Linked DNA regions of Homo sapiens: regions 1, 3, 4, 5 and 6 are each reported to be linked to region 2. Evidence: microRNA targets listed by miRTarBase, many of them from high-throughput screens and not tested one by one. Region 2 holds a microRNA gene; each other region holds the end of a gene's coding sequence.
The links. The annotated mature microRNA hsa-miR-7-5p reads UGGAAGACUAGUGAUUUUGUUGUU and lies in region 2 at 3,149-3,172, shown strand. An mRNA with a match to its seed (bases 2 to 7 or 8) in the 3' UTR can be bound and repressed. Matches are read on the target gene's strand: a 7mer-m8 pairs with bases 2 to 8, a 7mer-A1 pairs with bases 2 to 7 and ends in A, and an 8mer does both.

Region 1 (5,086 bases), not on the chromosome of region 2:
GCAGAGACCTGGCTCCAGGGACCATGCTGACTTCAGCTTCTACCACAGCCAGACGAGGACAGCCGGCTGCTGCCCCTGCTGGTCTGCCTGCGGTTCCTGTTCGTGCCCCTCTTCATGCTGTGCCACGTGCCCCAGAGGTCCCGGCTGCCCATCCTCTTCCCACAGGATGCCTACTTCATCACCTTCATGCTGCTCTTTGCCGTTTCTAATGGCTACCTGGTGTCCCTCACCATGTGCCTGGCGCCCAGGTCCGGGGCAATGGGGTGGGGTGGGGGGCTGGGAGTAGGGAGGTGGGTTCAGTCTTTGGGAAGGGACCGCCTGCAATGGAGGGACGGCCCATCCTGCTTCTGGCCAGCCCAACCCTAGCTGTCTGCAGGCCTTGCTGGCGCCCCCTACTGGGCCAAGCCTTAACTGCAGGGGAGAGAACTGGGCTAGGGAGGTACCCGCCCAACCAAGTAGCCCAGGCACTGGTTCTGGGGCCGCCTCAATGTGCCTCAGTTTCCCCATCTGTAAAAAAAAATGGGTTGAACTGTCATCCCTCAGGGCCCATCTAACTGTAAAATTCTCAGTTGAAGGAGAGCTAAGGTTTTGACCAAAAACAAGGTCATGGGCTATTTCCTCAAGGGGCAATGGAGTGGAGAATCCAGAGAGAATGAAGCTGGCAGGGCAGACAGGCTGAGAGCACTGTGGAAAGGGCAGGCTGTGGAATCTGGAATCCCATCATGTTAGACTCAGAGGCCCTGAGAGACATCCTTATCCAGCAGCCTCATTTACAGACCAGGAAACTGAGGCCCGGAAAGAAGGGGCCAGTTATGGTGACAGAGGGGTTGGGTCAGAGCCCAGACTGGATGGGCAGAGGGCAGTGGAGCTGGGTCCAGATTTAGACCCAGCATTTTCTAAGAGCTCCTGTTCCCGGGTGTTCTAGGCAGGTGCTGCCACACGAGAGGGAGGTGGCCGGCGCCCTCATGACCTTCTTCCTGGCCCTGGGACTTTCCTGTGGAGCCTCCCTCTCCTTCCTCTTCAAGGCGCTGCTCTGAAGTGGCCCCTCCAGGCTCTTTGGCAGCCTCTTCTCGACGTCTCCTTCCGGAGCTGAGATCCAGCCCAGGGCGAATGGCGAGCTTGGCTCAGGCCTCTGCGGGGTGGAGGCCCCTGGGCCTGAGGCTGCCAGCAGCGGGCAGGAGCTGCTCTTCATCCACTTGGAGTGCTGTGGGGAAGAAATCACCACCGGTCATTCTAACCCTCACCCAGGAATGGGGGTGACTCGCACAAGACCTCATGGAAAGGGTGATGACTAGGGAAAAGAGGGTGCAGGGCACGGCTGCTCCCCACCACCAGGTCTGCATTTGTTCATCATCATCAGGAGCAGAGGTGACCAGAGGGTTCAGAGTGGGAGGCGGGGCCAGCCCAGGCCAGGAGCGCCTCATCTTCCCAGGCCTCAGCCACCCAGGGTAAAAGGTGCCAGGGAAGTTGTGGGCACCTGAGAGGAGGAACAGATGTGGAGGACCTGAGGGTGCTCAAAGGGCCAGGCTCAGCCTCAAGCAGTGTTTTCATTGCCAACACTTACTGTACCCACTCCGCAGAGCCCAGCTGGGCCTGGGCCCCAGGGCCACAGCTAGCCTGCATGTGTGTACTGCACTTTACAGTTTGCAAAGCTCTTCCATACCCACTCTCTCACCGAAGCCTAATTGAGGCTCTTGGAAGGAGTCAGGCAAGGATTGTGCTTCCCCCATTATACAGGTGACAAAACTGAGTCCTGGGGAAAGTGACTGGTCCGTGGTAGAGCCGGGACCCAATCCCCTCTCTCTCCTCCCTGTTGGTGCTGTTCTTCCTGCCCAACACCTGTTTCTCTTTTCCTCAAGGGGTTTGGGGCAGGAGCCTGGGCACTTACTCCCCGTTTTTGCTGTTTCTCCTTCTGACCCTGCTCTTGGGTCTAATAACCCCATTTATTTGTATGATGCGTTCACCAAGTCTTTATTTCCGAAGTGCTGTTGGCTCTATTGGCCTCAGTGAACTGGGTGGGGTCGGAAAGATTGTACCCCCTTGACAGGTGGGATGACTGAGGCCCTGAGAGGGGTAGGGATTGGTGGGCATCTCTGTGCTGGGTCCTCTGGACCACATGATAGCTGGGGGGTACTGACCTGCAAGGAATCCTGAGCTCCTGGGCAGAGCACCTAGTTGGATGGACAACTATTGCTCTCCCACTCCATGAGCCCCTGGGCTCTCACCAGCATCCTCTGCCTCCCCAGGATAGCTCCTCCTTGGAAATCTGGCCTTAGAGAGGCAGTCAGTGTGGGCAGGGCTTTGGCGACCCCACCAATTCTACACACGGATGGAGGAAAGGCCTGCTTCACCACACACCTATACTACCCTGCCCGTCCCAGAGAAAAGCAAGGGTTTTCTGCCCACCTGCCTTTGTGAACATTCACTGAGCACCTATTAGATATTAGGTGCTCAGCCAGCACAGGGTACCTGCTCAGAAGCCAGGGGCTTTTTGGCATCAAGGAGGAAGACAGGCAAGATATGACCTTGGTTGCTGAAATAAGCCACAGGGCAGACCCCAAGGAAGGATTCATTCCTTTGAGCACTGTTCACAGACAGCTGCCCCGAGCCAGGCCCTGCCTGGTCTGGAGACTTTGAAACAAAGGAGACACAGTCCCCGCTCCCAAGGCCACAGGAAGCCAAATATAACTTGTGATACGTCTTGTGAGGGCCCTGCAGAAGCATGTCGAGGGAGCCACTGATTCCACCTGAGAAGTCAGGGCAGCCATTCCAGAGGAGGTATTTCCCCAGCTGGGCCCTGAGGGATGAATATGAGTTTGCTAGTCTGAGGTGGAGGAGGAGCAGAAGCAGAGAAGCCACAGAGGAGTTGATCCCAGCAGTCCAGCGGGGAGGTGATGGGGCCTAGACAGTGGCTTAGAGAGGACGACTGATACAGGAGATATGAGGGAGACTGCCTCTATGGAGGCCAGCTAACCTCGTGGATAAGTGCATGCATGCTGAGCCAGAGTCCTAGGTCAAATCCAGGCCCTTTTCTTTATGACCTGCCTGAGCTAGAGTCCTGGAGTGAGGTTGGAACTAAAGTACCACCTCTGATGATATTAGGGAAACGGTTGTTGGAGTCTTGGAGTCTCTTGCAAGACCAATAGGCCTACTTGTGCTCTCTGGGACTGTTGGAGGCAGGACCCCAACACTTGCTGAGTCTCCTTCTCCTCTACCTTCAGAGGAGAGTACAACTGTTGTCCGTTGTACCTAAAAGCTCCCTAGAAGCCAGGCGCGGTGGCTCACATAATCCCAGCACTTTGGGAGGCTGAGGCAGGTGGATCACCTGAGGTCGGGAGTTTGAGACCAGCCTGACCAACATGGAGAAACCCCATCTCTACTAAAAATACAAAATTAGCCGGGCGTAGTGGCGCATGCCTGTAATCCCAGTACTTGGGAGACTGAGGCAGGAGAATCGCTTGAATCCGGGAGGCGGAGGTTGCAGTGAGCCGAGATCGTGCCACTGCATTCCAGCCTGGGCAATAGGAGCGAAATTCTGCCTCAAAGAAAAAAAAAAAAAAAGCTCCCTAGACCTGCCAGATCCACCTGGGACCAGGAAGGCAGACACCCACCTGCCCACCTCCCAGGCCAGACAGTCCCAGGAAACCCACTGGGGCCACCCGTCACCCACAGCAAGCCCAGGTTCGGGCTGGGCAGTGGAGGATGGGGCCCAAAAAGAGGACACTTACCCCTCAGGATCATGATGTCACAACCTGGGATTCCGTCTTCCCATCCTCCTTCCCAGTAGACCCAGCACAACTTCATCAGCTCAGGGTGCAGGGGCTTTGATGTTGGAAACAAATTCTTGGACTGGTTGGCTACACCTGCCTGCCCCTCGCCTGATGCCTAGTCCCCAGCTACTGCTGCCTGCCCACCCTGTTACAGCTCTGCCGACAGGCCCGGATTCCCACAGAAGCAGCCAGTTTCCATCAGCAAACACTCGCACTGCACAGGGCACTGAGCTGGGCTCAGTGGAGACAGACATCCTTACCCTCAAGTTGCTGACCCTTTTATGGAAGAGGAGACTGGTAGTTAGAATTATACTACGTGAGGCCAGGCATGGTGGCTCACACCTGTAATCCCAGCACCTTGAGAGGCCAAGGTGGGCGGATCACTTGAGGTCAGGAGTTTGAGACCAGCCTGGCCAACATGGTGAAACCTGGTCTATACTAAAAAAATACAGAAATCAGCCGGGAATGGTGGCAGGCGCCTGTAATCCCAGCTACCTGGGAGGCTGAGGCAGGAGAATCACTGGAACCCGGAAGGTGGAGGCTGCAGTCAGCCGAGATTGCGCCACTGCACTCCAGCCTGGGTGACAGAGCAAGATCATCTCAAAAAAAAAAAAAAAAAAAGAATTCTACTACATGAAAAGCATTTGACATTTGTGATCTGCTTTTCCACCTGCCTCAACATGCCACATGTTGTCAGAGTTTGGCCCCTTTTGAGTGGCCCCAGAGGCCCCCCTACCTAACCCTCACGCCCTGCTTTGTATGGGAATGGCATCTCTAGCCAGGGCTGACTGGACCAGGGCTGGGGTCTGAGCAATGGCAGCCACTCACTGACTGGCCAGCAGCCTATGAGGTGGCCCGGTCCAGCTTCCCTGATGAGAGGAACCAATCAGATCATCTCTCTTGGGAGAATGAAGCCACAACATGAGTGGGGGTTGTCTCGAGGTTACTGGCACATTAGAAGGAATAGGTCATAGGCAGGGTCAAGGTCACAGGCAGGGTCAACAACATAATAGAATGGGGAATTGCTTTGTGGTCACTAGAGTCATCATGATATCCTAGATGGAGCCAGGTGGCATCCTTGTTCTTCTTGCTCTCTTTCTTTCTTCTCAAGGTTTCTTGAACAAACTACTGTTGACTGAGGTCACCTGGCTAGACTCCCCCTTATTTATTTATTTTTTTTGAGATAAGAGTCTTGCTCCATCACCCAGGCTTGAGTGCAGAGGTGCGATCTCGGCTCACTGCCACCTCCGCCTCCTGGGTTCAAGTTATTCCTCAGCCTCCTGAGTAACTGGGATTACAGATACGTGCCATGATGC
Region 2 (5,086 bases):
CCACTTTCATTCTTCAGAGCTGCGCTTTTGGCCTGAATTTTCAGTGACAAATAGAAAAGCTGAATGGATGGAGACAATGACTCTTTAATTCAATGTAAGAGCTGACTCATCGCTTCCCAGGAAGACTTGTTGCAGGTAGGTGATGGTTATCCTGGAACTGGAGATTATCCCAGTCCTTTGTTGCACTGGCAATGGGCAGGTCTGTTTATTTTTCTCTTTTTTCCTGCACCAAATAGTCCTACTCAGGGATGCTGGCATTGGTCCCCACTTCCCTAAAAGAGGGGAAGTCAAAGTTCTTTCCCTTTCAGGACAGAAACTCTCTGATAACAGCCCGGAAGAAGTCTTAATGTGAGTACAGACCACTTCAGTCAGTCTTTTTTTGGTTCTTGGCAGGAGGGGATACTGGGAATGGATAGATGCCTGATCATCACGGTGCTATCAAGAGCCATATTCTTTATTGGCCCCATCTGTGCCAGAGTTCAGCGGTACCATGAGCCCTAGTGCTAGACTATTAGCCCTTCAATATTAGGAGCTATGTCTTGTACCCCTTTGATTCCCTCAAACTCAGTTGTGCTTAAAGTAGGGCTGAACAAATGTTTGAACTAAATCCTACTGGCTAGTATTAAGACAAATAGCTTATCTTCTTCTTTATGAGAATGGTAGCTCTAGACCTGGACCCTCCCCCTCCAAATCAAAAGCTTCATATTCCCTAGCCCTCTTCACAAAAGATAAATTAAGGCTCAGTTAATTGTTACCATGGTAACATGGAGTGGCCACATTGAGGATCCCCATCATCCATTACTGTCATGAGGTAAAAGAGAGGAGGGGTTTGGGATCATTGTCATGGAGGAAACCATGGAAACAAGCGTTGCTAAGGGAACAGCTCTAAATTCAGAGGAAAGAAATTAGAAGTGGGGAGTGGAAGTTGGTGGGCTCAAGGGCAGGTCATTTTTTCAAAATATATTTCTTTGAGACTACAGCAGCCTCTTTTATTGCTTGCATCTTCTCCCAATTCAGATAGAGCCCAGAATTAAAGAATTTTGAAAACTAGGGCCACAATCAGTTCAAATTCATCTTCATTGGATCTGTAAGGAAAAAGCCAATGAAAATGGATTTACCCTGTTCACACCTCACAATCCTACTCTGTCTCTGAACTCTGCTTCTTTGCCAACCAGTTTCATTTATCACGGGCCAGGCTGTGCGCGAGGCACTTGGAAGAATAATGAGTGAGAGTCCCTGCTCTCATAGTGAGCTTCTAGCAGGGCAGTGGTTTGGGTGGTGGCTTTAGGGCCAGGGTTGCTCATGTAAGCTAGATCAGTCAGTCCTGCAAGCTGACATCCAGAGAGATGCTGTGGTTCTCTCCAAACTCTCTTTGTGGTGCATTTTAGCTTGTCTATTACTTCTCAAAGTTTATTTGCCAGGTCCCTAAGAAAGGCCTGTTTTTCCTAGAAATACCTAGGGTGCTAAGCTCTCCTATTAACCAAGGGGTTACCTTAGTTAGCATTGTTCTCTAATGGTACCCTCAGGTCCTTGTCTCTAAAACAATTCAAGGTTGAAGGACTAACCCTCCTCTCAACAGTGGCAAAGAGGCACGGGGCTATTTTTTTTTTTTTTTTGTAAAAGAAATTAAAGACCACACATCCATCTCTGTTTCTTGATAGATTAAAGGATGGGGAAAGGAGGTCTCAGTTTTCTACAGCTGGGAATTTCAGAGCCAGCACCTCACTGCGGGGTAGACTGAAGAGGGTCATAAAGAGCCTCTGGGGGAGGAACACCTCTCCCTTACATCTTCCACAAAAGAACTTCTTGGTTTTTCTCAGACCCATGGCAGAGATGTGCCCTGTCTCAGGCTGACAGCTGGAAGGGGCTGGGACTCAGAGCTAGGTATTGCCAGTCTTCTCCATGACTCCCCCCACTCCTCCTGCTCCTGAGCGTCTCCATCACCAGGCAAGCCCCCACCCCCATTCTGGATAGAGAGAATAAACCCAAGGATGGAAGGGTGGGCTAAAGAGGAAGTGCTCACAATTAAAAAGAGAAAGAATTAAAAGCAGCACCAATAGGGAAGGGTAATTATCCTTCAGTTGCTGCAGAAATACAATTAGGGCCATGCTCTCTGAGCCGCCAGGATATTGTGGCTTTTGCTAATTAAGGAGCGGATGTGTCCTGCCAGCGCAATTAGAGGCTGGCCCAGGCAGCAGGGGCTTTGCCTCTCCTCCACCAGTGCCACACTGCAAGGGAAATTAACCAGGGAGCCCAGCGCTGTGCCTGCAGGGAGGGGATGACTGGGCCAGGATTCCACCAGCCTCCTGTCCACAACCATTTCCCCTTTTCCTCTTCCTGCTCTGCTTACCCCAGCACCACCACTCTGACTTCATTCTGAAGCTTCCAGGGCTCAGTAACCACAGGAAGAATTTTCACCATGGGCCATGCCCATAGGCTTCCAGAAGGGGGAGGCACCAGTAGAGAGGGGTCACCATTTCCAAGCTCTAGTTTCTCTTCTGCATGGTGGTTCAATGCTTTATGATTAGTAAAGGAAAGAGAGAAATGAGCCACTTGCCTGCTTCTCTTTAAAAATAATTCCCCTGTTTGTAAAGGAAATATGCTCAAATTGGGTGCAGTGGCTCACGTCTATAATCCCAGCACTTTGAGAGGCTGAGGCAGGAGGATCACTTGAGCCCAGGAGTTCAAGACCAGCCTGGGCAATATACTGAGACCTTGTCTTTACTAAAAAAAAAAAAAAAAAAAAAAAAATTAGCTGTAGTCTCAGCTACTAGGGAGGCTGAGGTGGAAGAATCACTTGAACACTCGAGTCTGGAAGGTTGAAGCTGGAGTGAGCTGTGATTGCACCACTGCACTACAGCCTGGGTGACAGAGCAAGACCCTGTCTCACCAAAACAAAACAAAACAACTGTGTCCATTATAGAAAGTAGAACACTCCAGAAAAAAGGGAAAAGTAAGAAAAAATAATTTCTCCAGGGAATTCTGAGGTGAGGAGAGGTGTTCAAAGATGAACTTAGTAATAGGAGCGGAGACAACGCCTCGCCTGAAGGAGCATCCAGACCGCTGACCTGGTGGCGAGGGGAGGGGGGTGGTCCTCGAACGCCTTGCAGAACTGGCCTGGATACAGAGTGGACCGGCTGGCCCCATCTGGAAGACTAGTGATTTTGTTGTTGTCTTACTGCGCTCAACAACAAATCCCAGTCTACCTAATGGTGCCAGCCATCGCAGCGGGGTGCAGGAAATGGGGGCAGCCCCCCTTTTTGGCTATCCTTCCACGTGTTCTTTTTTGTATCTTTTGTGTTTCCTAGAAAACATCTCAGGTCACCACCCTAAACACCCATCGGCAGACTCTTCCAGAAACATGGACAAACTATGGTGTGAGCAGGGAAGTGGGGCAGGGTCTCTGTTTTCAGGGAGCAGTGGACTGCTTCCATACCACTACCTGAAGGGCAGGGGGAGAAAAACCCTCCTTAATTACTAATTCCCCCAACAATCACTTTGGGGCACCTATAATGGAGGCACCTTGTGACTCCACATCCTGGGGCTCAGGGCCTCATTGTCTGTGGCCCGACAGCCACAGTGTATGCGGGCACCGAGAGGTATGCACTGGAGACCGAGGTTCCCGGATGTTCAGTGTACCTGGCAGCAGGGGGGACACACCTGACCTCGGAGCTTGTCTGGTGCCTGCTCCACAGCTGAGGGAGTGGACTTGTGTGTATGGAATTTCTTGGTCCCAGTACCTGCCTCTGTGCTGCTACATCCAGAGGTGTGGCCAAGGGAAAAAAGCCCAGTGCTTGGGGACCATCCCCCACTGTGGCAGGAATACAATTAGAATTAGTGATCAGAAAAAGCATTTCCCAGCCTTTTATTTATTTATTTATTTATTTATTTATTTATTTATTTATTTATTTTTGAGACAGAGTCTCACTCTGTCCCAGGCTGGAGTGCAGTGGTACAGTCCTGACTCACTGCAACCTCCACCTCCTGGGTTCAAGTGATTCTTGTGCCTCAGCCTCCCGACTAGCTGGGATTACAGGTGAATGCCACCAACTCAGCTAATTTTTTGTATTTTTGGTAGAGAGAGGGGTTTGCTATGTTGGTCAGGCTGGTCTCGAACTCGTGACGTCAGGGGATCTGCCCACCTCGGTCTCCCAAAGTGCTGGGAGTATAGGCATCAGCCACCTTGCCTGGCCTCCCAGCCTTTCTGCCTGGGATCCCTCTGCCTGGGGGGTACCTTGCCCTAAGGTGAGCACCAAGTTACAGTGATGACACTTTCAGTGGAGATTAATTTTCAAGCAACAAATCCAAATGCCCTCCCTATTCCTAAGTATATTCCCACCCTCCTCCATCCATACAGCAGAGGAGACTAAAGCATATTACAAACTAAAGTTGGGGGTTGGGGATCGTACTCATTTAGGGAATGCTAAAAATGCAACCATTAGCTGAGCTCATTCTACCTCTTCCGGTTGCTAGCTGTGTGACCTCTGGCAAGGCACTTGACCTCTCTGAACCAAGTCAGCCCTTCACTTCTACCCAGAGACTTTGGCTGCCTCTGCTTCTGCTGCTCCCTATCCTACAAACTGGCTCTCTTCTTCTGCACTTCCAGTCTTAAATTTCCCTTTACTCCTAACCCTGCCTGAAGCCAGTGGGAAGCCAGTCCTATTAGAAATCTCATTTACACTTCAGAAGTCTGCAAATTGGTGTCACTCAGCAGGTATCTGTCCTTCACAGCGGGAGAGAAGCCCAGATTGGGCAGGAAGGGCAGAGCTGGAGAACAGGAGAGGAGGGGAGTTGAGTCTCTCCTGGGCAGCCCTCAGCCTCTGGGGCTGGTTTGGAGATGGAACGGGGAGAGATTGTGTCTCAGTGAAACAAGCATCTCGGGGGGGGATGTGGGGTGCATTCCTGATTTGAGGGATGGATATGACAGCCTTTGTTAAGTGGTGGGGGGAGTCCTGGCTCTGAAGTCAAACATGTGCCAGTTTCAATCTTGGCTCCACTGCTTACGAGCTGTGTGACTTTGAGTCAGTCACTTAACATCTCTGAGTCTCAGATTCCTCAACTGTGAAACAGAATTGATCACATCTAC
Region 3 (5,086 bases), not on the chromosome of region 2:
CAGCCTTCTTAATCAGACTAAGTACAGTACAGAAGACTTGTGATTTAGTTACCAAACTACTAAACTTTCTTTATGAGGGTGAAGGCTTCTTAAGAGACAATTAATGTGTAGATTCACAAGATGTTCTAAGGCAAACTGGTCTGAGCCAAAGAAGCCACGGAGACCAGGGAGAGAGCCCCACCCACCAGCAAGGATATATAAAAGCTCAGGAGTCTGGAGTGACATTCACAACTCAGGAGGTAACTTCAGCAAGCTACCTGCAGCCCTCTGTCTGACATCATGTCCTTCAACTGCTCCACAAGAAATTGCTCTTCCAGGCCCATTGGAGGACGCTGCATTGTTCCAGTGGCCCAAGTTACCACGACTTCCACCACTGATGCTGACTGCCTGGGCGGCATCTGTTTGCCCAGTTCCTTCCAGACTGGCTCTTGGCTCCTGGACCACTGTCAAGAGACCTGCTGTGAGCCCACTGCTTGCCAGCCAACCTGTTACCGGCGAACTTCATGTGTCTCCAACCCTTGCCAGGTGACTTGCTCTCGACAAACTACCTGTATTTCCAACCCCTGCTCAACTACCTACAGCCGGCCGCTCACCTTTGTCTCTAGTGGATGTCAGCCCCTGGGAGGCATCTCCAGTGTCTGCCAACCAGTGGGCGGCATCTCTACTGTCTGCCAACCAGTGGGAGGAGTCTCTACTGTCTGCCAGCCAGCCTGTGGGGTCTCCAGGACGTATCAGCAGTCCTGCGTGTCCAGCTGCCGAAGAACCTGCTAAGTGTGTAGGAGCCAGTGAGCGAATCAAGACTCCACGACCTGCCAGCTGTTTCCAGGATCTTCCAGCATGCTGCTTGTCCCTGAATAGCTCTTCATAGCTGACCCTTCTTGTGACCGCCTGACTGCTGGCTACTATCCATGCACACGCTGTCTTTAGCACTCTAAAATTTTTCTGGCCAGCCCTAAGCTTGTTTTAAGGGTTGCTCACTGGTGCTGTGTATGCCTCTGGATGTGTCCAGAAGCTTTACCATCCACACCCCAGTCTCTGATGCTTTTGACATGTTTTCACCTTGCTGCTGTATCTCCTGGCCTCTGCTTTTGTGTCTCACAAAAACAGAGCTTGTCTCACCATGTATTTCTCAATAAACCTGCATTAGTTGGCATTGCAAATGTATGTCTCAGCAGAATTCTTTTTTAAACATTTCAACTTTTAATTTAGTTTTTGCGGGGTACATGTGCAGGTTTGCTACAGGGGTATACTGTGTGATGCTGAGGTTTGGGGTATGATTGAACCCATCTGTCAGGTATTGAACATAGTACCCAATAGGTAGTTTTCCAACCCTTTTCCTCTTCCTCACTCCCCGCTCTTCCAGTTGCCAGTGTCTATTGTTTTTATCTTTATGTCCACGTGTACCTAATGTTTAGCTCCTACTTATTAGTGAGAACAGGTGGTATTTAGTTTTCTCAACAGAGCTCCTTGTTTGCAAGAGTCTTTGCTGATCAGGGTCTGATTTTTTTTTTCCTGAGCCTAGAATATGGGCTTAATCATTATGCCCTGTGACCAAACCAAGGATTATCTTATATTTTACTTGTTCAGAGAGAGTCTTCAGCTGTGCGGTGAAGTAAGGGCTATGATTTTTCTTTTCTTTTCTTTCTTTCTTTTTCTTTTTCTTTTTTTTCTTTTTTTTGAGATGGAGTCTCACTCTGTCGCCCAGGCTGGAGTGCAGTGGCACGATCTTGGCTCACTGTAAACTCTGCCTACTGGGTTCAAGTGATTCTCCTGCCTCAGCCTCCAGAGTAGCTGGGATTACAGACGTTCACCACTACGCCCGGCTAATTTTTGTAGTTTTAGTAGAGACAGGTTTCACCACGTTGGCCAGGCTGGTTTTGAACTCCTGAGCTCAGGTGATCTGCCGCCTCGGCCTCCTAAAGTGCTGGGATTACAGGCCAGGGCTATGAGATTTCTAGGAGTAACTTGTCTTCTACGTCTCCTTCCATTTCTAGGGGCACATGGAATAACTTACATTTAGGAAAAAGAAAAGTTACCCAGAAAACCAGGTATTTCAGAAAGATGTGCAGGGAAGGGAGCAGTGGGATCACTGAGAAGTGCTGAGTCTTATTTAGTTAGAGGATCACAGTAGAAACCTTTGGAAAAGATTCCTCCATGATCAATCGGGATGGAAGGAGAAGGAGAAAGAAAGAGAAGGCACTTTTCAGGCCCTGAAATTAATCACATCAAAAGAGTGGCTCTAGCTTTATACCCACCTCACTCATGGTAGTGGATTAGTAGAATCTGCCAACGAGGGATACCAATTGACTGTTCGAGTCAGAGCCCTGAGAAAATTAAAGCTCTGTGTTTTAGTAAATCTGGGCAGGAGAGACTTAAAAAGAAGCTTAAAAACCTGTTGGCTTATATTAATACTTAGTCATACTTCTTGCTCGTTCTTCCCTGGAACTCGTGTACTAAATAAATCAAACCATCTGGATAGGTGGAGGTTGACATGCTAAGTCCTTTTGCCATTTTTTTTTTTTTTAAGGAAGTGAAGACTGGCTACCAACTGGTTTGCTTTTGCCCTTCTCATTTGTTCTGTCCAGAAAAACATCTTGATTTTCTTTTCAGAGTTGCTCAAGGAGATACAAAAGCAGATGATTTTTACACAAAATGGAGACATATGAGGTACACATGCCATCAACAATGGGTGTCTTTTTTCATAACAGAAATGCTGGTGTCTTGTGGAGAATTTGATCTCACTCTGTGTTGTCAGTGCAAAATGGATTTCTTATTTCTCTGATGGTTTTTCAGAGGTGAAATATATAGATTATTTCCATATAGATGCAATATTTTTAATTTTTCCCATTGATGGCTCTACTCTTAGGATTCCCCTAATTGGATTATGTTAGTATGCATGGCTCATGGTAATATCTCAACAAAGCAAGACATGGTTTTTAGTCTATATTAGTTTCATGCCCTCTCTTTTTAAAATAAGCACTCTGGCTTTTGGAAATGCTCTGATTTATTTTAAAATAGAAATCACTAGGGGAACTCTACATTGCCCTTTCAAAACTGTTATTACATGATTCTCATTTGTTGTTTATTTTAGTCACTTCACATATAATTTGGAAAATTCCCACTTTTTAAGAAGATGACAGATTAATTTTTTTTAACTTTCAGCTTTCTAGATTTCAATAAAAAATATAAAGACAGAGGTACCTTCTTTATCTTTTTATTTAGATGGTTACTTGGCTCTAATAGATAACATTTCTATATTAATAATATATAAGAACATAGCCTTTATGGTTAGATATGAGCAAGCTTTTGCCTGGGCTATTTATTGTGACAATGTGAACATTTAAGGCTGTGGTAGCTGTCTTGCAAAGCTATTTTCTTGCCTTCATTTCTGTTTTGGGAATCATCTTCTTTGCTATTAGAGCTATTCTATTTGTACTTGAACTTTGGAAGTTCTCTCCATTCTTTGCCTTATTACATAATAAATTGTAAAGTTTCAAAGTTTGTTTTTGAGAACAGTCCTTTAAAAGACAGGGCAGTGATGATTTCTTTCTCTTCATTTACAGCCTAGAAATGCAATTTGTATCCAATATCTCATAGCTCCAGGGAAGGAGCGTAACTTTTCCTGGTTCTGCCACTTGGATGCAGGTTTGTCGACGTTTCTGAGCCTTAGTTAGCTCATTTGTGTGTGAACCGGAGATAATGGTAGCATCTTACACCTTTGTTTTCAGGAGTAAATTGAGATAATACACATGTAACCCAAGTATCAGCTGAGCCATCCTGTCATTTAACATTGAAACAAAAATAGCTCTCTTATCTCCTTTTGCTGTTTGGTGGAAGTCTTGGCTGCTCCCAACATCTCCGAGGAATCTGAGAGTAGACAGGTTGGGGAAAGATGTCTAACTTTTTTCTTACCTTCTTGGGCTCTGAGCTTCTACTTGAGAAGAATTAGTTCATTTCATGAATTTTCTTCCTATGTTATGGTTGGCTTCTGTTTAGACTACCGTGATTCAGATATTTACACTTCCTTTCCATGATTTTCACTAAGATCCACTTACACAAGGCATTTGTGTTTCTAACACTTTATAGAAAGTTTGAGGACACAGAGAACATTTATACTCTAGTGATGATAACAACTTAAATCTAATTAAAATTTTTTTTATCATGGTAAAATATATATGTAGCATAAAAGTTGTCATTTTAAGTATTTTCAAGTGTACAATTCAGTGGCATTAAGTAAATTCACAATATCATGTCACTATTTCCAGAACTTTTCTCCATTCCAGACTGAAATCTCTTGGCCATTGTCTTCGGGACATTATCTCAATGTCCCAGCTCAAAATCAAATTTCTCCCTCTTTTTCTCCCTTCATTTCCTCCCTCCCTTCTTCCCTTCCTGCCACCTTCCCTCACCATCTCCTTTTGCTCTTTTCCCTCTTCATCTCCTTTCCTCCCTCTCTCCCTTCTGACTTTCTGTCAACAAACATTAGAATACCTCTAATGTTCCTGTTATCCCAGCACTTTGGGAGGCCAAGGCAGGTGGATCACGAAATCAGGAGATCGAGACCATCCTGGCCAACATAGTGAAACCCCGTCTCTACTAAAAATACAAAAAAATTAGCCAGGCGTGGTGGTGCTTGCCTGTAGTCCCAGCTACTCGAGAGGTTGAGGCGGGAGAATTGCTTGAACCTGGAGGCGGAGGTTGTAGTGAGCCGAGATTGCGCCACTGCACTCCAGCCTGGCGACAGAGCGAGAGTCTGTCTCAAAAAAAAAAATAAATAAATAAAATAAAATAAATAAATAAATAAATAAAGAATACCTCTAATGTTTCAACTTTCTATGCGAGGTGCTGGTTATGCAGTGGAAAACAAAGCCATTACTATTCCTGCTCTCCTGAAGCTCATAGTTGGGTTGTGAAGGACAAACTCACTGATTCTTCAATATCTTCTCCTATATGCTTTGCTCCCCTTAGGGCTTCACATTTTACTTCCAAATGCCTTACTTTTCTCCTCCAATGCATATAAAGGCTTACCAAGATGCTACATCATGCAAGTTATCAGTGAAGGATGGATGGATATTCTATCCTTTTA
Region 4 (5,086 bases), not on the chromosome of region 2:
TTCAGGCTGCTTAGGGGTTCTTCCAAAATATATTTTGTTATATCCCTAATAGTAATCTTTTTCTAAAAGATAATGCCTGTTGAATATAGAACACTGCTTTAAGAATGCAGAATTATCAATCTGAAAATAAATGATTATTCTTCAGGACTACAGACAAAGATATGGAAGACTAAATATTCATAAAGTAGATTCAGTGGAAATTTTGGTGTTTTACTTTCTAAAAGCAACCTGGTTTCTTATGCCTATTTTGTGATACATGCAAACATAGGAAAATTCTGGATATTTAAAGTTTTATTAGTTAACTTCCAAATAATTGAAGTCCTACTGTACATTCTTACTTATAGTGATAATTTATTAATTAATCTAGATTATCATGAATCTAAAATTGTTCACAAAGATCACTATTGACTTGGATTGTGCATTTAAACTATAAATGCCTTTTTCTAATGATACTTTAAGGAGTATTTGGACAAGGCATCAGTCACACTGTGGATACAATCTGCTTTCTCTGGCAACTTATTATTAATGTAAAATGAGAGTCCATATTGATCTTTGCTGATGCGGGAAGTTCACATGAATTCCATGAAACTGCAAATGAACAATGAAGGGCAAATTTTGGCTTCTAATAAAACAGTAGCTTGAATATTTGGGTGCAAATATCTCTTTTGTAATAAACAAAGATACCTTTTACTTGCAGAACTTTCCATTGTAATGAAGTCATGGTTAGAACAGTTAAAATAGGATAATACTTGAAAGTGAATGAGTACATGAATAAGATTTTGTGTTGCTTTACCTAACTCCTGCCCTTTTTTTCCATTTACAGTTATTCAAGAGCAAGAAAATGAACCTGAGCCCCTATCCTTGAGCTCAGACATCTCCTTAAATAAGTCACAGTTAGATGACTGCCCAAGGGACTCTGGTTGCTATATCTCATCAGGAAATTCAGATAATGGCAAAGAGGATCTGGAGTCTGAAAATCTGTCTGACATGGTACATAAGATTATTATCACAGAGCCAAGTGACTGAACACGCATTCCCAACTATATATCTACAGATGCATTCCATTTTAACTCTTCTTGAGCTAAAACGTCAAATAGGAGAGGAAGATAAGATAAATATTTGTAAATAAAACCTAAAGTTTAAATGTTTTAATCTGAATAATTGTACATAAAATTTTGTATCTCTAACATTCCAAATTACTGTCAATAAAATATATATTTATTATTTTAAATGCTATGTGTTAATATTTCACTTGCTTGTATTAGAAAGGCAAAATGTAAGACTTTGGTATGTGTGACATATGCTTTATTTGGCTTTATTTTACAAGTACAGTATCTGCAAAAAACAAAGTAACCTTTTTTCATACCTGCCAGTTTTGAATTTATATATGTTATTGAACAAATAGTAATAGAGGATTCGCTGTTGAAACAAGTTGTCCAAGCAATGTTATATTCATTTTTATACTTATTGGGAAAGTGTGAGTTAATATTGGACACATTTTATCCTGATCCACAGTGGAGTTTTAGTAATTATATTTTGTTGATTTCTTCATTTTGTTTTCTGGTATAAAAGTAGAGATAATGTGTAGTCACTTCTGATTTAGTGAAACCAATTGTAATAATTGTGGAAATGTTTTGTCTTTAAGTGTAAATATTTTAAAATTTGACATACCCTAATGTTAATAATAAAAAGAACTATTTGCATATTGCATTTTCCAGAGTAATGTTACTTAAGGGTTTTAATATTGGACTTTAGAGAAAATATCTCCTCCCAGACACCCCTCACTTTTTGTAATATAAGTGCATCCCATAGCAATAATCTCAACCTCCTCAAACTCATCTGTCCCCTGAACCCCAGTGATGTTTATCTGACTCACTTGATACCCTCAGGAAACTTCAATTCAACATAACCAAACCATCGATTTTCTCTACAAATTTGTTTCTGCTTTTTTATTGCCAACTCCTCTTTACTGCTACTATCACCCAGCCAGTCATCAAAGCAGAAAATCACTTCTTGCTTCATCTCACATATATCCTCCTCATACAAATTCAATAAGTAATCAAGCCCTATGGATCCTACCTCTACAAATGCTTTCATATTCATGGCCTTCTATCCATTTCCATGGTTGTTGTCTTGCTTTGGATCCTCATGATCTCATGCACGGAAAATGGCAGTAGCTTTCCAACTGACCCCCTACCTTCTCATCCATCCTCCACACAGCCTCCAGATAAATCTTTCTAATCCATGAATCAAATCAGGTACTTTTCTGCTTGAAAGTTTTGGAGGGCTTCTCATTGTCTTTAGTATAATATCCAAACTTCCTTCCAGGCTGCATAAGGTCTTCCCCAATTGCTTTTTACCTACCTTATGAATTGTAACTACCCCCTCACCACCACCACCATACACACACACCTCTCAATCTACACTCCAGCCATAACAATATACTTGCAATTTTCTTCCCTTTGTGACTTTCCATATGCTATTTATTTTCCTGGAGTGTCTCCTGCTATTTTCCACATTAGGAAGTCTCCCTCTTTCCTCCATCCTAAAGGTCACTTACTCTGTGAAGCCTTCCATGATTCCCTTTGGTGCTCTCTTCTTTGTGTTTCCATAGCAACTTGTAAATTGTGGTTCATAGCACTTGTCATATTATGCTTTATATATTTGTATGACAATTGCCCTTCCGTAAGACTGTGACCTCCTTGTGACAGAGATTATTTTGTTTAGCCTTTTTAATCTCTGGTGCCTAACATAATACCTGGCACACAGTGGGCACTTAGGAAATATTTGCTAGAGGGCATTGAATATGATGATTATTCCTATATAACAGATTCCATCTTCCTATTTAAATTGATCCATTCAATTTATATAGGTACTGTAGGTAAGTACCTTCCAAAGTGACCTATTTTTTTTTTAACCAATAAAACGTAATACCTTAGGAAAAAACAGGAAACACAAAGTGTTATTTCAAATGCTGGAGGACAACATTACACTGCTAACGTCCGGCATATTTTTCCAGACCCCTGAGATTTAACCGCATATGCAGTGCCCAGGTGAGGCTAAAGCACATGTCTACCTCTATTCTTCCCCCTTCACAGCATGAAATGGTGTTTCATTTCAGTTTTCCAAGGTGCTGCCTCCATCATGACCCCACTCTTGCTACAGCTACCACTCCAAATCGATTATTCTGGGGCCTCCTTAAACACAGCAGTCACTAACCATGATTTTAAAACTTTAATCACCTGCTGCCTCAGGGAGATCAAGACAGGATAGCTTCTTTATGGAGATGCCAGGAAATTGTAAGTTGGGGAGCAACTAACAAACTACTTGACTTTAAAACGGTGGCAATCGCCCATGACGCATACTCAGCCACAACTTCAATCACTTAAAAATGAAGGTCTGGTACCCAGTCAAGGATTTAGGGAAATGCTTTTGAGGGGAAGTGCTGCAGAGCCCTTGAGGAGATTGAAGCACAGGAAGAGAGATTGGATTCCTAAAAAGAGGAGACACCATGAGGCTCAAGTGGTCAGGAGGAAGGCCTCATCACGGAGTTCCGCACTAAAAAGGACACAAGAATAGCGGACGTATACTCCACATTAAGGGAGGGCTGCTGTCCTCACCTTACCCACAGCTCCTTACGGATCCTCTGCAGCTCTCGCCTCAGCTCCCTCAACGTGGGGCAGGGAACATCAACAGAAGGAAGACAGGTTTTTCTCTTGGCCATGGAAAGCTGAATAAAGAGCAGCGGAAAGATAAGAAACGGCTCATCCAAGGTTGGGAGGTAGCTGAGGAACTTGGACCTTCTGCTGCTTTTGGCTGAGTGAGAGACATGAGTCCAAGCCTTTTAAGATGGCTAAAGGATTAACATTATAATAATTACAAGATCATGATACTGGCTTTGTGTTTCTAGGTTGAACCCTGACGACATTTCCCAGTCTCATATGTTTATTTATTCACTCAGCAATATTTAAAGTTGGAACATGTATGCTGTCCAAGACTATGCCAACAAAGGTCTTTTTAACTATATAACCGCATGAGAATCATAGCATAGCTTCTCTCATTGGAACCCACTGAGTCTTTCATATATACACAGATCAGAATATACCGTTATTCTGATCCCAGAGATTCCGTATCTTTGTAAATTCAAGTATGTTGTGACAATATGCATGGTTAGAGGAATTTTATTCCAGATAAATAAATAAAATCCTCATAGTAATTTTTTGATGAATACAAAAATCAGATCATTTAAATTCTGAGTTCCCCTTGTAATGTACAGATGAATATATCTACATTCTGAAGTATTTCATTATAATCTTTTCTCTTTTAATCAATTAAATTGCCAAGGGAGTTAGTTCAGAAATAAAATAACTTTTAAAATTTCAAAATGATAGGCAGCTAAAGATTATCAGGATTTCAGAAAACGTACAATTTACTGAGGTTACAGTCAAGTGCCCTGCAACTTCCTGAATGAGGCCAAATTGATGACATTTCATGTTGAGAAACTTCCGTTACAAGCAGAAGTTCTGAGAAAAATAATAGGAAGAAATTTTAGATACTCCATCACCTCACACACGCACGCACTTCCATCCTCCCCACAACCATCAAAAAACTTGAATAATTTGCATACAGACTTCAAGTACTCTTTCATAAAGTGGGAAGTCACGCTACAATCACGTAAAGGTTGAGAGCAAAACGAATAGGGACTAAATGTAGGTAAAAGAACAGCAGCTTCTAAACTTGACCAGGTTTTTTGGCTATGGAAATGAGATAAAAGCAACCCTCTTTTTATGTTACCTCCTATTTAACTGCCGAATTTCTCTGATCACACCCAATGTTCACCTAAACATAGAGACTGGAGGAGATCATGGAGTTGAAGCATCTGGTTTGAGAATTGTGTGACTGGGCAGGTCATTTATCCTCTAAGCTTAGTCTTTTTTTTTTAATCTACAAAATGTTGTCAATTAAATGAGATAATGTGTGTAAAGCACACAGCACGACGCATGTAGTATGTGCATAAAAACAACTACTGCTATTATATCCACTACTTCATTTTTATTCATTGATGTCTGGACATTCAGTGGAAGCA
Region 5 (5,086 bases), not on the chromosome of region 2:
TTATGCTGTGATGAACAACCCCACCAGACAGCCTTTGGCCCTAAACGTTGCATACAGGTACAGCATGCTTTGGGTTTAGGGTTGGTTGTAAACTATTTTGTGCATTCCTTTAATACCTCATACCTCCCTGTGTTCTAGGCGCTGCTTGCAGATTCTGGCTGCAGGACTGTTCCTGCCAGGTTCAGTGGGTATCACTGACCCCTGTGAGAGTGGCAACTTTAGAGTACACACAGTCATGACCCTAGAACAGCAGGTATTGGGACAGATATGAACTGAGTTGTTTTGCCCCACTCTTTTGAATACTGCTGCTCAGCAGGCAAAGCGGAATATGGTCTTTACGGGTCAGGAATTTGGGGATTCTGAAAGACTTTGGTCCTGAGATTTAAAAAGCTGTCTTAATCTCTGTTTTCAGAAGGGTATTACTCAAATAAGGTCCTTTGATTTTCCTTGCTTACTCTCACTTTGCTTTCCTTCAGGACATGGTCTGCTATACAGCTCAGACTCTCGTCCGAATCCTCTCACATGGTGGCTTTAGGAAGATCCTTGGCCAGGAGGGTGATGCCAGCTGTGAGTGACCACTGTGGGTCAGGGGTTTTGTATTGTAATCTGGTACAGAGAAGCTGTACACTACTTAAATGTCTTTAATATTTCCACAGTGTAAGTAATGACTTTTATGCTGGGCTACTCGTCTAAATCACCTTTTTCTCTTTCCTAGATCTTGCTTCTGAAATATCTACCTGGGATGGAGTGATAGTAACACCTTCAGAAAAGGCTTATGAGAAGCCACCAGAGAAGAAGGAAGGAGAGGAAGAAGAGGAGAATACAGAAGAACCACCTCAAGGAGAGGAAGAAGAAAGCATGGAAACTCAGGAGTGACATTCCCTTCACTCCTTTTCCTACCCAAGGGGGAAGACTGGAGCCTAAGCTGCCTGCTACTGGGCTTTACATGGTGACAGACATTTCCGTGGGATAGGGAAGATAGCAGGAAGAAAAGTAAACTCCATAGAAGTGTCATTCCACTGGGTTTTGATATTGGCTTAGCTGCCAGTCTCCCATTTGTGACCTATGCCATCCATCTATAATGGAGGATACCAACATTTCTTCCTAATATTCTATAATCTCCAACTCCTGAAAACCCCTCTCTCAACTAATACTTTGCTGTTGAAATGTTGTGAAATGTTAAGTGTCTGGAAATTTTTTTTTCTAAGAAAAACTATTAAAGTACTTCCTAGTAGGGCTCTTGGTCTTTCTGGTTGGTGTTTTTTGTTTGTTTGTTTTTTTGCATGTGGCAACCTTTTTTGCTTTTGGCTTTGTGTACTCTTTTGTTGAAAATGATAATTGAGTCATTTAATTATAAATACTCAGATCACAATTTGAAGCTGTCTTTGAATTAAAGGACAAACTCCTGGAACCTTTCCATATACCAGAGTAAACTAGAATATCATTTTAAGTATTTATTGAATAAAATGATTCTATCAACACTGCTACTGTATTCAAGCCAGTGCAATAAAAAAGTGGGTGGACAGAGGTCATTCACTTTGACTTTGCCTGCCCCCTCCAAATCCCCAGTGTAAACAGGAAAATGAGAAGTCACAGGTAGAGGACATGCTGTCCAGGCCCATGTAACCAGGCATGTAACATACAAAGGAAGCCCCTCTGGTTAACTAGTCCTGAAGAAGGTAAGCCTCACGTATGCAGCTTAAAAAAAAAAGTAGAGGCCTCAGCTCATTTGTGAAAGGAAGCAAGAGCCATAATTAATGTAAGTCCTTTGGGAACCTCATTCTGGCTGTGTGTAGGTTTCCTGGGGCCCCTACATAAATGGGTAAGACGAAGTGCTTCAAACAAACTGTACGGCTCCCTTTTTAATGTCTGAAGGTCTATGGGGACTGTCTCCTAGGATCTTTGCATGTCTGTTGAAACAAGGCAGCTGGGGAACAGTACTTGTGCTACTGAGTCCATAGGCTCATCTGTTATTTGCCTGGGGAGCCAGGGGGGTAAATTCCCGAATCCAGCATTGCTCTCCTGCGGGCTGTTTCCTTGGCAACACTGTGGTTTAGCCGTCTCAGTCGTTCCTACAAGACAAGGAAGGTTTGGAATCTTAACCACTGTGAAAGGCTTGAGAGTGTAAGTGAACTAGGTGCTGAAAAATACCGGGCGTGATCTACCTCAAAGTCAGTCTTCAAAAGTATATATAAGAATGTAGGCCGGGCATGGTGGCTCACACTTGTAATCCCAGCACTTTGGGAGGCTGAGGCGGGTGGATTACCTGAGGTCAGGAGTTCAAGACCAGCCTGACCAACATGGTAAAACCCGTCTCTACTAAAAAATACAAAAAAATTAGCTGGGCATGGTGGCGGGTGCTTGTAATCTGAGGCAGGAGAATCGCTTGAAACCGGGAGGTGGAGGTTGCAATGAAATGAGATCGTGCCACTGCACTCTAGCCTGGGTGACAGAGGGAGAACTCCATCTCAAAAAAAAAAAAAAATGTAGGCCAGGCATGGTGCTCATGCCTATCCCAGCACCATTTAGGAGGAAGTGGCAGGAAGATCACTTGAGCCCAGTTTGAGAACAGCCTGGGCACCATAGTGATAGCCTGTCTTTTTTTTTTTTTTTTTTTTTTCCCGAGACGGAGTTTCGCTCTTGTTGCCCAGGCTGAAGTGCAATGGTGCGATCTCAGCTCACCGCAACCTCCGTCCCCCGGGCTCAAGTGATTCTTCTGTCTCAGCCTCCCAAGTAGCTGGGATTACAGGCATGCGCTACCACGCCCAGCTAATTTTGTATTTTTAGTAGAGACGGGGTTTCTCTATGTTGGTCAGGCTGGTCTCCAACTCCCAACCTCAGGTGACCTGTCCACCTCGGCCTCCCAAACTGCTGGGATTACAGGCAAGAGCCACCGCGCCCAGCCGATCCTGTCTTTTTATTTAAAAAAAAAAAAAAAAAGGCCAGGCAGGCCGGGTGCAGTGGCTCACGCCTGTAATCCCAGCGTTTTGGGAGGCCCAGGCAGGTGGATCACTCGCATGCAGGAGTTTGGGACCAGCCTGGGTAACATGGTGAAACCCTGTCTCTAGAAAAAATACAAAAATTAGCTGGACATGGTGGTGCATGCCTGTAGTCCCAGCTACTTGGGAGGCTGAGGTGGATGGATCGCTTGAGCCTGGGAGGTAGAGGCTGCAGTGAGCCTTTATCATGCCACTGCACTCCATCCTGGGTGATAGACCTTGTATCATAAAAATAAATAGCCAGGTGTGGTGGTTCACTCCTGTAGTCTCAGCACTTCGGGTGGCCAAGGTGGGAAGCTCACTTGAGCCCAGGAGTTCCAGACCAGCCTGGGCAACATGGAGAAACCCTACTTCTACAAAAAAATACAAAAATTAGCTGGGCGTTGTGCACGCTTGTAGTCCTAGTTACTCGGGAGGCGGAGGCAGAATTGCTTGAGCCCAGGGGGCGGAGGTTGCAGCGAGCTGAGATTGAGCCACCGCACTCCAGCCTGGGTGACAGAGGGAGACTGTCACACACACACACACAAGAATGTAAATGGCAGCAACTGAATAGTGAGAATGAGACGAATTTTCCTAGGTATTTTTCAAGTACTGGGAGAAGTGAATTTCCCTTTCCCCAAAGAATTTTAAAATTACAGTGGCTTTCACTGTGTTGAGGACTTACAAAAAAGGGCAAAGAATCACTGTTGGTAAGATATTCTTTTACCTGAGCATTCTGTAGAATGTTGTTAACCAAGACAACGCGTCGCCGGGCATTAAGTAGCTTCTTAACATAGGGGTCAAGATCCAGGGCCACCTTCTGATCCTCATTTATGCGGCACAGTTCTGGGGATGGAAGTAAGGTGCAGCTAAGATCTAACGGCTTATCTCTTGTTCTGAGGGAAAGCAGGCTGGTAATGGGATGGAAAACACTTGCACCCAAACGGGCCACAGCCATTAGAGATTTAAGACATCCCTGAAAGGAGGAGTCCTTTGGCAGCCCTGATGCCCTGGAAGCAAGTGACAGAAACTCAGCCCAGGGGTTGGCAAAAACCTAAGGTCCTGAAAGTGGGCTGAAGAATTCCGGGTACACAGGGATGCTCACTCACCTGTGGCTAGGTTGTCAATTTGTTCCCGGAGCTCTACCTGGCTCTCTCTGCAAAGAGGTACAAGGCCTACAAGGTCAGGCAGTTACCGGAGCTCAGGAAACGAACTCCCCTACGTATTTACCAAGTACTGAGAGAAGCCGGCCTCCGCTGAACCCTCCACCTGCGGCCTTCCCGCCTGTCCTCCCCGCCTCGAATCAGTTTCCTAAATTTATGCCCACTCCCAGCCAGAACACTTTCTTGGCCCCGCCCCTACAAAGCCAGAGAGACAGGCCCCGCCCCCAACTTCCCTCCCGGGCACCTGACGGCGTGTACGTGAGAGTCGAGCTGCTGCACAGCGGGTCGCAGGAACTCCAGCAGCCCTTCGGCGAAAAGGTCGCGGCCTGTGGGCCCCGCCACCGGGGTCCCTGCCCCCGATACAGCGGCGGAACCAGCCCCCGCCATCACGAATTGTCCTGAAGCCCGAAACCTGCCGCGAGGGCCGCCGGGAACCGGAGCCGCGCCGCACTGCCCCGCCCCGTGAGGGGGCGCCCGGGAAATGCTGTCTCCACCAAGACACCGGGGTTTCTGGGAAATGGAGTCTAGCGCGAACCGGGCGGGGAGGAGGGCCAGGCCGTAGGAGTAGAGGCCTTGTGGCTGGTCTTGAAAATCTCCAAAGTTCAGGTTGTAGAAAGGAACCAGTTTTTGGAGTGGATACTTTTCGTTTTCTTTAAAGGTGAAAATAAACGCGAATACCTGCAGTTGTCCATAGCCTTCCCATGTTAACTTTATGAGATAGCCGGGCATGGTGGCGGGCACCCAGCTACTTGGGAGACTGAGGCAGGAGAACCGCTTGAACCCGGGAGGCGGAGATTGCAGTGAGCCGAGATCGCGCCACTGCACTCCAGTCTGGGCAACAGAGAGACTCCGCCTCAAAAAAAAAAAAAAAAAAAAAAAAAGCAACCCAAACCAAACAAAAACAAACCAAAAACAAAAACACTTTATGAGAAAGCCACATTATAT
Region 6 (5,000 bases), not on the chromosome of region 2:
CTTTGCCTGCCCACCCTACCTTGTGCCAGCCCTTCAGAGGCCACTTCCTCTTCTTGAGCAGGTGACCTTCCTGCCTCTCAGGCATGACACCCTCTGTCCCCAGCCTGACCCGAGGCTCCTCCACCACCTCCCACAGCTCAGAGGCCTGCAGTCCAGGACAGAGGGAGGGGAGCACTGGTGAGACGTCCGCCTTGGCCCCTCCCTGTCTGGTTCCAGCTTGGCCCACCCACCACCGCTTTCCCACTCTCTGACCTGCTGAGCACTGCTGGGCTTTGAGGACTGAGCGCTCTCAGGCAGGAAGGGCGGGTCCCTCTCTTGGAAGTCCATGGAGAAGGGAGAGGCCACTCCCTGCTGGGGATGTAGAGCAGGGAGCAGGGTGGAAGGGGAAGGATGTCACCTGCTCCTGACGGGGTCCTTGAAGCAAGAGAAAGACCCCCTTAACGCAAACTCTGCTATCACCTTCCCCACCTCCAGCCCCTCCCACACCCTCTGAGATAAGGGCTCCCCAACATACCCTCTGCTCACCTGCCAAGCCTCTCCCAAGTCTGCCCCTCTGTCCCGACCCCACCCATTTTCACCTGATATGGACACTGCCCTGAGAGTGAACTAGCACACAGCAGACGGGCAGGTGCCCAGGGAAAACCACAAGACATATGCCCAGCCCCGCCTTGGGCACATACTCTGGGGCTCCAAGAAACATTCAGTGCTTTCTTTAGAGGCTTCCCTGGGAGTGCTCAGAGGTGAAGCAAGGGAGTGACAGAAGAGGCTCCAAGAAGAGACAGAGGGGTTCAGAGACTGGACAAGCGAGACCTCCTCAATCCAGCTGCCTCTGCCTTCAGGACCCCTCCACCCTGCCACCGTAGCTCAGAGACTTCTCTGCCATGATCTTGCAGAAAACTCCCCAGCCTCCCACCAATTAATCTCCATATTATCTAGTGCTTGGAGAAACTGAGGCCTGAGATAGCCCCCATTTTCCCATGTCTCCTCCCACCAAACATGCCCCTAGGATGCCCTTTTTGGACCCTCAGTACCCCCTAAAGCCTCACCATCCCCTGTCTACCCTCACAGTCCTTGGGGCTCTGAGAAGTGCCACCCACCCAGAGAGGGCAGGACATTGGGCTAAAGGAGATACTTCATGAGAGAAGAGGGGGCCCAGGACATGCCCAGGTCTGCACAGGTCCTGCAGCAGTGCCCACAGGCACCCTTGGCACTGGCCCTGGCCATCCTGGCTCCACCGGGAGATCAATAATGCATGAGGCTCTGCATGTGTGAGACGGGGGAGGGGACTGGAGGGGCGAGGCTGGTTTGAGGTGGGGGAAGCAGCCCAGATCTTCTAATGGAGCTAGCAAGCACCTGAGGAACTGAGGCCCAGAGGGGACAGGGATGTGGCAGGAACGGGTGCCCAGGAGGTTGGGGCAGAGGGACCCTTGCTGCAAGAGGCTGACCTGGGAGGAAACTCCTGCATTCAGCCATTGAAAGTTCTCAAACTCTTCCGGTGTTCAGGTATCTCTGGGCCCTTCTCCCGGCCCTGTGGGGATCCTGGCCCCTCACTGCTTGTGGGTAGAGGGGGAGGCTCTATCGGTAGGCAGGTGAAGGGTCTAGGTGAGCCAGGTGGGTGCCCCCTCTCCACCTCTATTCAGGAGCAGACCCACCAGCTTCAGGTGGGAGGAAGCTCTTCTCAGGAATGTCAGCTGCTGCCACGCAGCCCCCTTACCCCAGGGTCCATGGACGCCAGTACTCCTTGGCCCTTGCGCCGCTCTGCCTCTGAGTCACCGTCTCCGAGTCACCGGCTCCCTCCTCACCGCGCTGAGCAGTGGCAGCAGCTGCTGCAGGAACCAGGAAGGAAGGAGATGTCAGAGCCTCCCCTCTAGCCGGATCTCCCCACCTCCCTCTCCCCTGTCCCCTCCTCCCGCCAAGCTCCGGGCAGCCGCTCAGCTCTGCCCCCCTGCTCCCCGGAGGACTCAGGGCTGAGCAGACTGCCCTAGCATCGATGTGGCTTGGGAGTGGGGGCACAGTCCCTGCTGGGCATGGTTCCAGATAGATCAGAGGACTGGGGAACTGTTGGCTGTACGCCAGTGGTGATAAAGGATTTATTCAGACTAGCATGGCAGTGACCCTGTTAGTACCCAAGGCCAATTCCTAATTAACCCCCGCCCCCCGCCTCTCATTTTACATCTGAAAATAGACTGCAAAATTTGGAGCCAGCAAAAGTATCAGGTTGATGGTGGAGGGACAGATGCCCCCTCTGGGACCATAAGAGAGTGCCAAGAGCACAGTCAGCAGGGGCAGTCAAGCCAGGAAAGGGACAGCCAGCAGTCCCCACACTGAGGCCCTTCACTGGGGTGATGCCCCACTAGGTCAGGCCCCATGGAGATCTGAAAGTGCTTGTGTGTATGAAGACACCCCACAGCCTGCAGTCTCTGATCAGGAGCAGGCCTGGGGCAGTCACAGCTGCCGTTAAAAGGGCTGCAATGCTGGTCCCCTCCCTTCCCTTTACCCTTCTGCTGGAGTACTGTGCCCAGCTGCTCAATTCTAATGAAAAATCGGCTCTTAACAAAGATCTAAAATTCATTCAAATGAATGTGGCATAGACCTACAGTTTCAAGCGCAGCTAAGTTTTCTGGAAAGAAGTAGGTGGGGCCTCAGGTGAAGGATGTGATTCAAGTTTCTTCTCTGACCCCAAAAGTGACATGGGCCACTTATCCCTTCCACTTCATCCTCACCGAGCTTGGTTTACGTTTCAGGGTCTCACATATCTCTCGGGAACACCCACTGTCTTGCCTTTATTCAGAGCCTCAGTGCTGCTCCAGCCACCCCAGGAGGAGGGTGTTGTTAGCACCTGGCAGGGTTCTGGGAGGGACAGGAGCACTGGGCAGCACTGACCAGACAAGCTCTGGCATCCAGGAGCCTCAAGGGCCTTTTAAGCCACTTCCCAGTGATTGAACATCCCTGGGCATACAGCACAGGATGAGGCACTGGGGGAAGCTGGTCCTGGCCCAGGCCACAAAAGAGCTGCTGCAGGTCATCCCTGCCAGACAGTGCCTGTCCAAGACTAAGGAAGCGGTGGCATTGCTTCAAGTCCGAGAAGGAATGTTGAACAGCCACCTTCCCCGGGTCACCCCTGCATCCACCCAGAATGTGCTCCAGTCAAGGATGATGGTGGACTCTGAGTTAAGCATCCCGTCTCCTTTATTAGGAATTTCTGGTTCATGAAGACTTGCATGAGGCCTCCTACCCTAGAGCTCTCAGAATTCCCCATTAATAGAGAATCCTAGTTTTCCCGCAGGCCTTTTGTCCAGAACCACCAGAGACACGTTAGCTAGTGGGTACAGCTGTCAGCTGCCTTTAATAGGGCAAGCATGCGCGGGATGCCATTTGTGGGAACAGGTATAGGGGAAGAGGATTTTCCTAGGAAGGGAAGCAAGAGTGAGGAAAGTCAGATGACAGAGAAGCCCCTGAGAGTAAGTTTAGAGGGAGGACAACCGTGTAAACCACAAAATAAAGGAAGTAGAATATATTTCATTTTATTATAAAGCAGTGCTCCCAAACTTTTCACAGCGTACACCTCGAGGGTGGAGAACTAACATCCAAGCACACCTGGATGGTGGATGGGACCCACTTCTGGGTAACCTGATGAGGAAGCTCTAGTGAAGAAATTCAGGACGCGGTCTTCAGAGCAGAGGGCTTGGTTCAAGTCCCTGTTCTGCCACTTACTAACTGCATGACCTTGAGCAAGCCACTTAATTTCTCTGCTCCTTCTCTGTGAAATGGGTACAATGTGGTCAGCAGTAAAGGAACTAATACATGTACAGCACTCAGCACAAAGCCTGGCACACAGCAGGCTCTCACCAGGTGCCATTCTCAGCACAACTGCTTGGTTGAGCTACTGTGGCAGTGGCAGGTTGTGCCCCAAGGGGGTGGGCTCAGGAGCCCGTGCAGCAAGAGGCAGTGACCAAGGAGGCAGGGGACAATAGCCCTATCTTTTCAGGATCTCTGCCTTGGACCTGGAGAATGGAGAGACTTTGCTCCTATCACGTCCCAAGTTGGGAAAACTAAGGACGAAGCCGGTGACTGACATCTGAAATGGAATCCTCTGCATCTCCAAGTGGCCCTATACCTGACAATATCATTACTAGTGAAAACCAAGTGACAAACACACTCCCCGACCCCAAGTTCTTCCACATGTCCCATTGAGGAGAGCACAGCCAATAACGCAGAGTGTATTTATGCGCAGGGCTGGCTAAACAGGCTGGCTACGAGTCCGGAACAGTGTCAGGATCTGGCTTCCCATTGGCCGACATGACAGAATCCTTCTCGCGTTGCTCTCTGATGTACTGGTCCAACAGGGTGGTCAGCTGGAGGGGCTGGTGCTGGAGCAGGGAGTGGGTCTGGGCTGTGAGGCAGGTGAGGCCTCCTACAAGCTCCCCCTGCACCAGGGGCAGGCTGGGGAGCTTGGAGTAGTTGATAAAGCCCTGCCTGCTGAGGATGGTGTCATCAATGCAGCCACCTGGAAGAACACAGGGTCAGTTAGGCTCCTTGCAGATTGCCTTTCTTCTCTGAAAACAATATTCTGACCCTAGTAACTTGCTCTCCATTGCCCTTCTCAAAATCCTGCCTTCCCCAGGACCTGGGTTCCACTGTGCCCCACACCACACCCACTCTGCTTGGGATCGATCCCTACTTCTTCACTCTTCCCTCAGAAAACTCTTAATATATCCACCTGGCCCTGACCCCTATTAAGTCAGTGTTTCCTAAACTTCCTTGTAAATAAGAATCAGGCAGCCAGGTGTGGTGGCTCATGCCTGTAATCCCAGCACTTTGGGAGGCTGAGGCAGGCAGATCACCTGAGGTCAGGAGTTCAAGACCAGCCTGGCCAACATGGAGAAACCCCGTCTCTACTAAAAATACAAAAATTAGCCAGGCATGGTGGCGAGCGCCTGTAATCCAAGCCACTCGGGAGGCTGAGGCAGGAGAATCGTTTGAACCCGGGAGGTAGAGGT

Region 1: the mRNA of SLC29A2 is a reported target of hsa-miR-7-5p. Seed matches in the 3' UTR shown: 7mer-A1 at 1,654-1,660.
Region 3: miRTarBase lists KRTAP11-1 as a target of hsa-miR-7-5p. Seed matches in the 3' UTR shown: 7mer-A1 at 829-835.
Region 4: the mRNA of SAMSN1 is a reported target of hsa-miR-7-5p. The part of its 3' UTR that is shown has no 7-base or 8-base seed match.
Region 5: the mRNA of ILF2 is a reported target of hsa-miR-7-5p. The part of its 3' UTR that is shown has no 7-base or 8-base seed match.
Region 6: miRTarBase lists MRPL10 as a target of hsa-miR-7-5p. The part of its 3' UTR that is shown has no 7-base or 8-base seed match.

What each region holds. Positions count from the first base shown.
Region 1 is chr11:66,359,387-66,364,472 of GRCh38, reverse strand. SLC29A2 (solute carrier family 29 member 2) reads left to right here. Exons shown (of 12, transcript NM_001532.3): 11 at 49-248; 12 at 926-1,952. The coding sequence ends at 1,037. It overlaps B4GAT1-DT (B4GAT1 divergent transcript), which reads right to left. Exons shown (of 2, transcript NR_135761.1): 2 at 709-1,204. Among named protein-coding and RNA genes, the nearest start is that of SLC29A2, 9.8 kb to the left of the region's middle.
Region 2 is chr15:88,608,708-88,613,793 of GRCh38, forward strand. MIR7-2 (microRNA 7-2) reads left to right here and starts at 3,118; the gene lies at 3,118-3,227. MIR3529 (microRNA 3529) reads right to left here and starts at 3,217; the gene lies at 3,140-3,217. It also overlaps a transcript of AEN not described here. RefSeq lists an enhancer at 4,327-5,011.
Region 3 is chr21:30,876,718-30,881,803 of GRCh38, reverse strand. It overlaps KRTAP11-1 (keratin associated protein 11-1), which reads left to right and starts at 224. Exons shown (of 1, transcript NM_175858.3): 1 at 224-1,160. The coding sequence starts at 280. The coding sequence ends at 771.
Region 4 is chr21:14,481,852-14,486,937 of GRCh38, reverse strand. It overlaps SAMSN1 (SAM domain, SH3 domain and nuclear localization signals 1), which reads left to right. Exons shown (of 8, transcript NM_022136.5): 8 at 824-1,710. The coding sequence ends at 1,026. The region is part of intron 1 of LOC124905053 (a long non-coding RNA gene); the gene reads right to left. Among named protein-coding and RNA genes, the nearest start is that of SAMSN1, 62 kb to the left of the region's middle.
Region 5 is chr1:153,658,186-153,663,271 of GRCh38, reverse strand. It overlaps ILF2 (interleukin enhancer binding factor 2), which reads left to right. Exons shown (of 14, transcript NM_004515.4): 11 at 1-57; 12 at 139-253; 13 at 477-567; 14 at 716-1,484. The coding sequence ends at 876. It overlaps SNAPIN (SNAP associated protein), which reads right to left and starts at 4,569. Exons shown (of 4, transcript NM_012437.6): 1 at 4,386-4,569; 2 at 4,088-4,134; 3 at 3,706-3,824; 4 at 1,420-2,072. The coding sequence starts at 4,528. The coding sequence ends at 1,971. RefSeq lists an enhancer at 4,724-4,803.
Region 6 is chr17:47,819,952-47,824,951 of GRCh38, forward strand. MRPL10 (mitochondrial ribosomal protein L10) reads right to left here. Exons shown (of 5, transcript NM_145255.4): 5 at 3,321-4,507. The coding sequence ends at 4,254. OSBPL7 (oxysterol binding protein like 7) reads right to left here and starts at 1,843. Exons shown (of 23, transcript NM_145798.3): 1 at 1,715-1,843; 2 at 253-414; 3 at 20-145. The coding sequence starts at 327. RefSeq lists a silencer at 1,806-2,021 and an enhancer at 2,132-2,301.